Homo sapiens: one gene and its partner. The protein of the gene in region 2 purifies or fractionates together with the protein of the main gene of each other region. This does not show direct contact. Each region holds a gene or a part of one and is shown on either strand. Other genes may lie near its edges.

The links.
Region 1: the proteins of WDR7 (region 2) and DMXL1 purify together in Homo sapiens (affinity purification with mass spectrometry; one large-scale study listed by BioGRID and IntAct). This does not show direct contact.

Annotation. Positions count from the first base shown.
Region 1 is NC_000005.10:119,147,587-119,151,542, forward strand, and holds part of DMXL1 (dmX-like protein 1), read left to right. Parts: intron 1-1,152; coding exon 1,153-2,835; intron 2,836-3,956.
Region 2 is NC_000018.10:56,688,988-56,693,399, reverse strand, and holds part of WDR7 (WD repeat-containing protein 7), read right to left. Parts: intron 2,185-4,412; coding exon 2,039-2,184; intron 1,686-2,038; coding exon 1,583-1,685; intron 1-1,582.

The sequences.
Region 1 (3,956 bases), on a different chromosome or scaffold from region 2:
TATATTCAAGTACCCTAAATTGAAGACTTATAGTTCTCATTATGTTTTCAGATTACTCTGACATTTATCAGCCAGTTCTAGTCTTAAATATTGATTTCTAAAACAAATTTTCTTTGTCTTTTTGGGAAGACAAAGGGACAGTTTCTGGAGCGGAGATGGTAACTAAGTTGTACTTTATTTGCAGACTTTGATGGTATTGGCAATAGCTGCCTGGAGCCATGATTCTGATTGTGTGGTTTCTGCTATATATTTATTATCCTTATTCCAGAGCAGTGGTTTTCAAAGTGTCCCCAGGCCAGCAGCATCAGCGTCCTGGAAACTTGTTAGAAATTGGCCACTCCATTTCTTGGGCCACCCAGGGTTACTGAATCTCAGACTCTGGGATGGGGCCCAGTGGCCTGGACTTACAAACCTTTAAAGTGATTCTTATGCTTGCAAAAGGTCAAGAACCACTGTTCTGGAGTATCAAGAATACTAATCAAAAATACAAATTAAGGCTTATGTTTTAGGAAACTAATAGTGCATGATTACTTTAAGTCTAAGCAAATGTTAAGTTGTAGTTAGGAATCTTCTCAGCATTTGTTATGGCAAATATACCTCAATCATGAAGGGCCCTGTAAAGTGACCATTCAGTACTTAAGTAAACATAGGCCATTCACATTTATATTGAAAAATGTGAAAGAGAAGGAGCCAGTGAGTGTTGACAAATTTAAAAAAATGCATTGATACCTTTAAAATTAGATTTATAATGTATAAAACTAGCAAAGAGCTGTGAAACAAATTCGGGATTAACTAGAATTAAATTCTGCCTATGCCTAAGTTGTTTGATTTAGGCCCAAGATGTTTAACCTTCAAGAATTGAAGTAAATTATCTCAGAGTTCCCTTTCAACTCTAGGTTTTGGTGATACTTTCTTTTTATATACCTTTCTGATGTCATTAAAAGCCTCTTTCTTACTATTCTTGCTGCCCCTTTTTAACTTAAATAAATATAGGCTGTCTATTATGCAGTTTAAAAAACATACAGCCAAGATGCCCCTTTGATTTTGTTCATATTTATAGTAGTTAATACAAAAGACTAAAATCGTAAGTACATAAAAACAGAAGTATTTAACCAAATTTGACATTTTGTTAACGGATTATTTTTATTTTAGGACATCTGAGTTCATCTTCTATATATCCTGCATGCAGTGCTCCTTATTTATTGGCAACTTCATGTTCAGATGAGAAAGTAAGATTCTGGAGATGCAGAGTAACAGATGGAGAATCTGCCACGTCAAAGAATGGAAAAATTGATCTTGCATACATTTGGGAAGAATGGCCATTACTTATTGAAGATGGACTTCAGAGCAATAGTAGTATAACTGTACCTGGTAGGCCTGTAGAAGTTAGCTGTGCACATACAAATCGTTTAGCAGTAGCTTATAAGCAGCCTGCATCTAATAGTAGATCTTCCCAGGACTTTGTGATGCATGTAAGTATTTTTGAATGTGAGTCAACAGGAGGTTCATGTTGGGTCCTTGAGCAGACAATTCATTTAGATGAGTTAAGCACAGTATTGGATTCTGGCATTAGTGTTGATAGCAATTTAGTGGCCTATAATAAACAAGACATGTATTTATCTAGTAAAGAGAATATCACATCAAACACAAAGCATTTAGTTCACTTAGATTGGATGTCTAGAGAAGACGGTTCTCATATCCTGACTGTAGGAATTGGATCAAAACTTTTTATGTATGGACCCCTGGCTGGCAAGGTACAAGACCAAACTGGTAAGGAAACCCTGGCATTTCCTCTCTGGGAGAGTACCAAAGTTGTGCCCCTTTCTAAATTTGTACTATTACGAAGTGTGGACCTAGTTTCTTCTGTAGATGGCTCCCCACCTTTTCCTGTTTCTTTATCGTGGGTCCGGGATGGCATCCTTGTGGTAGGAATGGACTGTGAAATGCATGTGTATTGCCAATGGCAACCATCTTCTAAACAAGAACCTGTTATAACAGATTCGTACAGTGGGAGCACTCCATCTATAACAAGTTTAATAAAACAGAGTAACTCCAGTTCTGGGTTACATCCTCCAAAGAAAACTCTGACTCGATCCATGACCAGTCTTGCACAGAAAATCTGTGGAAAGAAAACTGCATTCGATCCTTCAGTGGATATGGAAGATTCAGGTCTTTTTGAAGCAGCTCATGTACTTTCCCCGACTCTACCTCAGTATCATCCCTTGCAGCTTTTGGAACTCATGGATCTTGGTAAAGTTCGGAGAGCCAAGGCCATCTTGTCCCATCTTGTTAAGTGCATTGCTGGGGAAGTTGTGGCTCTGAATGAAGCTGAATCTAATCATGAACGCCGCCTTAGGTCTCTCACAATCAGTGCTAGTGGAAGCACTACCAGAGACCCCCAGGCATTCAACAAGGCTGAAAATACAGATTACACAGAAATAGATTCTGTTCCTCCACTTCCTTTATATGCCTTACTTGCAGCAGATGATGATAGCTGTTACTCATCTTTGGAGAAATCTAGTAATGAGAGTACGTTAAGTAAATCAAACCAATTATCTAAAGAAAGTTATGATGAGCTTTTTCAGACTCAACTTCTAATGACTGATACTCATATGTTAGAGACAGATGAAGAAAATACAAAGCCTAGAGTTATTGACCTTTCACAGTACAGTCCGACTTACTTTGGACCTGAGCATGCTCAGGTTCTTTCTGGCCACTTACTTCATTCTAGTTTACCAGGACTCAGCCGGATGGAGCAGATGTCTTTGATGGCCTTAGCAGATACAATTGCAACTACAAGCACTGATATTGGAGAAAGCCGAGACAGAAGCCAAGGTAAAACTAAACTCCGTACTGATAACATTTTTACTTACTTTCACAGAAAATAATTTTAAATAATTTTTATTAAAATGATGCCATTGGCTAGGCACAGGGGCTTATGCCTGTAAATTCAGCTCTTTGGGAGGCTGAGGCAGGAGGATCACTTGAACCTAGGAGTTTAAGACCAGTCTGGGCAACATAGTTGAGACCCCCATCTCTATGAAAACAAAAAAAAATTAGCCAGATATGGTGCCTCATGCCTATAGTCCTAGCTACTCAGGAGGCTGAGGTGGGATGATGCTTGAGCCCAGGAGGTTGAGCTGGCAGTGAACTGATTGTGCCACTGCACTACAGCCTGGACAATAGAGCAAGACCCTGTCTCTTAAAAAAAAAAATACCATGAAGGTTTTTTTTGGAAACATCTTTGCTACCTTCACAACAGTTTTAACTTTTTTTCCCCCCGAGACTATCATAAACAGCAAACTCTTAATATGCACTATTTATCCTGTAAATCATAGTACTATGAGCGAGTGCACAAAGACTCGTTATGCTGTTCATTTTTACTAATTTTCTGCTCAATAGTATAAAAGATCCAACTGAATCTTTCTGAGTTTAGCAAAATTTAACAGATTCTTATTAAACAATTATTTTAAGTACCTAAAAATGTGGTTTCTGGGTTTTTTCCCCTCATTTTGTAATAATCCACTATTAACAATTATAATTTGGTTTTTAAAACATTGAGTTTTTTTTAAATTAGCATTAATGTATGCTCCTACCTAGAAAAGCATAATGTAATTAGGTCTTTTCCTCACCCAGAGAGCATTTAAAAAAAAAATACTGCCAAGTTATGAACAGTTTGCCATAAAATCTCAAGTAAGTTCTGAAATGAACAAATTGAGCCTTGTAGACCATATATACGTCAGTATCCCTTTGAATGAAACTTGAAAGGAAAATATAGGGTAAATTTAATATAATAACAAAATTTAAATTTAAGAAAAATTAAGTTGGTTATGAATCTTGACACTTTTAGAGATATTACTAGTAGATACTATTTTTGATGTGAATATGTTATAGGTGTTTTATGTTTTTAGTTTTTGCTTCAAGGAAAAAATATCAGGCCCTCCCACCATAGAACT
Region 2 (4,412 bases):
CATTAGGATCTTATGTGTACTTTCATTTTCAGCTCAAGATTTTGTGCCTTCAATGAAGTACTATCTGAAAATACTAAATAGTGTGGTGGACTTCTACTAAAATTCGGAGGATTACTTCACAAATACTGGAATATTAAAGAACAGAATCTTAGCCTGAAAAGCAATATTAAATTTGACTTCAGTTTTGACAATTATAGTTAATAGTCTAATTACTGTATTCAAATACTGGTTAATCAAATACAGTAATTAACAGCTAAAAGCATTAGCCAATGGAAACTACACATATTAAGCATAACCAATCGTTTGACTTTACTTACTGAATTTTTTTTGCTTTTGAGACAGGGTCTCGCCATGTTGCCCAGGCTGGAGTGCAGTGGCACGATCACAGCTCACTGCAGCCTCCACCTCCCAGCTCAAAGGATCTTCCCACTTCAGCCTCCCAAGTAGCTGGGACTACAGGCGTGTACCACCACACCATGCTAATTTTTTTTTTTGTAGAGATGGGGTCTCACTATGTCGCCCAGACTAAAATTTTTAATTGATAAACTATATATTTAACAAGGAAAAATTGCTACAGCAGCTGTAATAACCAATATTCTACATTTCAACACACCACAAAATACACATTTTTAATTTAAAACGTATTAGGGAGCTGATATTTAAAGAAAATGATTTTTTTTTTGGTTTTGCTTATGTATATTTTTTATACAAGTCATTATTCCTTAGGTTAATTGGACATGACTATCTAGGTTGAAGAGCAGTAAGTGGAAGTTTGAATAAAGAACAGACAGGCTAAAGATGATCTTAATTGTACATAGATATACAAATTCTATATATTCAAAATATTCATGGAAAGAACAATTCCCTTCCCCTAGCCACCCGGCCACATAAACGTGAGACGTAATGTTCAGAATGATAAAGCCATGGAAACCTAGAACATCAATTAAAAAAAAAAAAAACAAAAAAAACTCTGCTTTCAAAGCCAAAGCTTCTTTCTTACTGCTCAATATAGAGTTGAAAACCCAGTACTAAGTGCTGTTGTACTTCAACATTAAGTGGATATTAAGCACGTTTTCAGAAATCACAATAAACTTTTATTTTTATAGAGAAAAAATGTTTTATTCTTTATTTCTAGTTTCTAATGATTTAAAATGCTACATGATTTTGTGGAGGTATTGCAATGCCTTGTTCAACAAAGGAACTATTATTACTCAGCATTATTACATAACTATGTGTGCTCTTCTAAAAATATATCTGTCACTATGTTTATAATTGCATGATAGTATGTAAAATAATTTACACCATCAATATGAACTTCATCAAAAAGTCAATTTCAATACGCAATTAGCATAAGATCACTTGTACTCTTAGAAAAACGAATGTTATTTCATAGGCATATTATATGTTTTTAAACAAGCAGATTTTGAAATGTCCTTATAACTGACCATCTCAAAATGTTTTACATTTAACACAGTGCTTTGAATTGTATCAAATTTTTTAAACCTATCACAAGACAATAAATACAGTTGTAGAAGTTTTTCAATGTAACTTTCAATTATAAATGACACCTCAAGAATTTTACCTCTTTATCTTTTCGATCCAAGAGGATATGTTGTACAGGAGGAATTAAATTTTCAACTGCCTTCCCCACATCACTGCGGAATGAATCACTAGCTGGAAGGCAACTGAATATGGGAAAAATACAATATTCAATTAAAATACTGACATTAAATACTTTATAATTCCATATGACAAGGTTTGTTGGTATTGGACAAAAAGGGGATTTTTAAATTATAGTTAATTTAATGCAGGCATTAAATTAAATAATGTTATAAAAATATTGTCCTTCAAATAAAAATCCACCTAATTTTTGCACTTAGAAGTTAAATTGGAATTAAAAATCTAACTTAAGAAGTTCTGAAGTGTTTTATCAAAGTTAAATATTTATAATACATACATTTTCTTAAAGTCAGGTTGTACCCTAAATTCTGAATCTTTTACTTTTGATGACTGTCCTAATTTATTACTTGCTGCATACCTGGCAGGTAGTTTGTAAATATAACTTTGCCCATTTTCTGTCCAAATGATGACTTTATCTGATGAGACAAAGTCCCCCCCGGTCCATGTCTGTCCATTTTCACTAGGACCTGAACACAACAAGGAATAGTCTCCGGCATCGAACACCTGCAAGGAAGAAAGAAATTCACAATCTACTCCATATTGTTGTAAAAAGTAAGATCCAGTGACATTTCAAGTTTAAAAAAAAAGCCTGGAAATGTATTTAGAAAACTCAGTTTGCTGCATCAGATAAAGAAAGTTTGTCAATAAGCCCTGGGAGAGGTCACCTTCAATAGGGAAGACACAACTAGGCCCCTAGTTATGGGTAACCTCCCTGTGGACAGGGAATAGGCTATGACAAGTGGAGCGAGGGTGCTCCCCACTACAGGAACAGTTATCCTCAGACTTTCTATCTAGTGAAAGTATTCCATTAAAGAATTGCAAATAATAGGGAATCAACCTCAAATATACAGGCTTGAGCCCTGTTTTATTTCTATGTCTAGTAACAGCATTTTTTTTTTTTTCTTGAGACAAAGTCTTGCTCTGCCACCCAGGCTGAAGTGCAGTGGCACAATCAGAGCTCACTGCAACCTCAAACTCCTGGGCTCAAGTGATTCTCCTACCTCAGCCTAGCTGGGACTGTAAGAGCATGCCACCATGCCCTGCTAACTTTTTTATTTCTTATTTCTTGTAGAGACAGGGTCTCACCATGTTGCCCAGGCTGGTCTCGAACTCCTGGGCTCAAGTGATCCTCCCACCCTGGCCTCCTAAAGTGCTGGGATTACAGGCATGAGCCACCTTGCCTGGCCCAGTAGCAACATTTCTAACAATAAACTCTGGCATGGGAATAACTCATTATTATAAGGGAGTTACTTTGCTCTACATTATTTCATCAATGTTCTAAAATACTATAGTTAACAGGCTCAATTTTACTATGTAATAATTTTCACATATAAAATTCAAATCCCTATAATTTCACCAGCAGTAAAGGCTACTAACCTTATAGGGCTTTACATTTGCAAGGCACTGCAAAGTTTACAAAGTACCTTTACAATTATTATCTCATATGACCCTGAGAATCACCGCAGATGTTACTATTCCAGTTTACAGACAAGAAATGGACACAAATAAAGATTTGATCAATTGCTCAAAGTCATGTGTCCAGTAAGTGATAGAGCCAAAGCTAAAAACTCTGCTCTTATAATTCCTAGCAGAATTATTCTATCACTTTTAATATTTGAAAAAAGTACATTAAATGTTGTTAGAAAATTTTCCCAGGAGGAATGAGTAATTCCTCATTCCTCAATAGATCAGAGGTTTTATTTTACTTTTCTTTAAAGAAAACAATGAAGTTGCTTGTATACAGCCTTGAAGTTAGAACACATCCTAGCTGCATTTACCATGATTTCTTATAATATTTATCAGTGTATAACATCAGCACTACAATTATAGCCAAGAAAACTCCAAGAAAGAGTAAGGAAGGGAAACTAGCCCTCCAGCCCTATTATCTGTTAAAGCAAATCATACAACTATAAAAGTTAGAACAATATAGTATTAATTCATGAATGGGCAGACAAATCCAGAAGTCTGAAAACAGATTCCAATAATGTAGGAATATAGTATATTATCAAGGGACAACAGACGAATGAATTATTCAACAAATGGCATCAGGAACTGGGGGGGTCCATCTGACATAAAAATAAAATTGGATCTATATCTCACAATTTATACAAAATAAATTCCAGATTAAAGATTCAAAGGTATGTAAGACAAAACCATATAGGCCAGGCACGGTGGCTCATGCCTATAATCCCAGCCCTTTGGGAGGCCAAGGCAAGCTGACCACTTGATGCCAGGAGTTCAAGACCAGCCTGAGCAACAAGGTGAAACCCATCTCTACTAAAAATACAAAAATTGGTCAGGCGTGGTGGTCCATGCCTGTGATCCCAGCTACTTGGGAGGCTGAGGCAGGAGAATCCCTTGAACCTGAGAGGCAGAGGTTACAGTGAGCCGAGATTGCACCATTGCACTCCAGCCTGGGCGACAGCAAGACTCTGTCTCAAAACAAACAGACAAAATTAAAAATAAAACCATATAAAAATTAGGGGAAAATGAAAGATTTGAATCTCAGCTTATGGTAAGCCCAATTGAAAACTTCTTCATGATAATAAGTATCTTAAAAAGCCATTCTGGTGGGTTGTAGTACTATCTCAGTATTGTCTTAATATGATGATTAGTGAAGTTGAGCACCTTTCTATACATTTACTGGCCATCTGGCTTTCATCTTTTGTGAAATATTTTTGTCCAATTTCCTGCTGAGTGTTCCGTAGTTTTCTTCCTGATTTGCAGGAGTT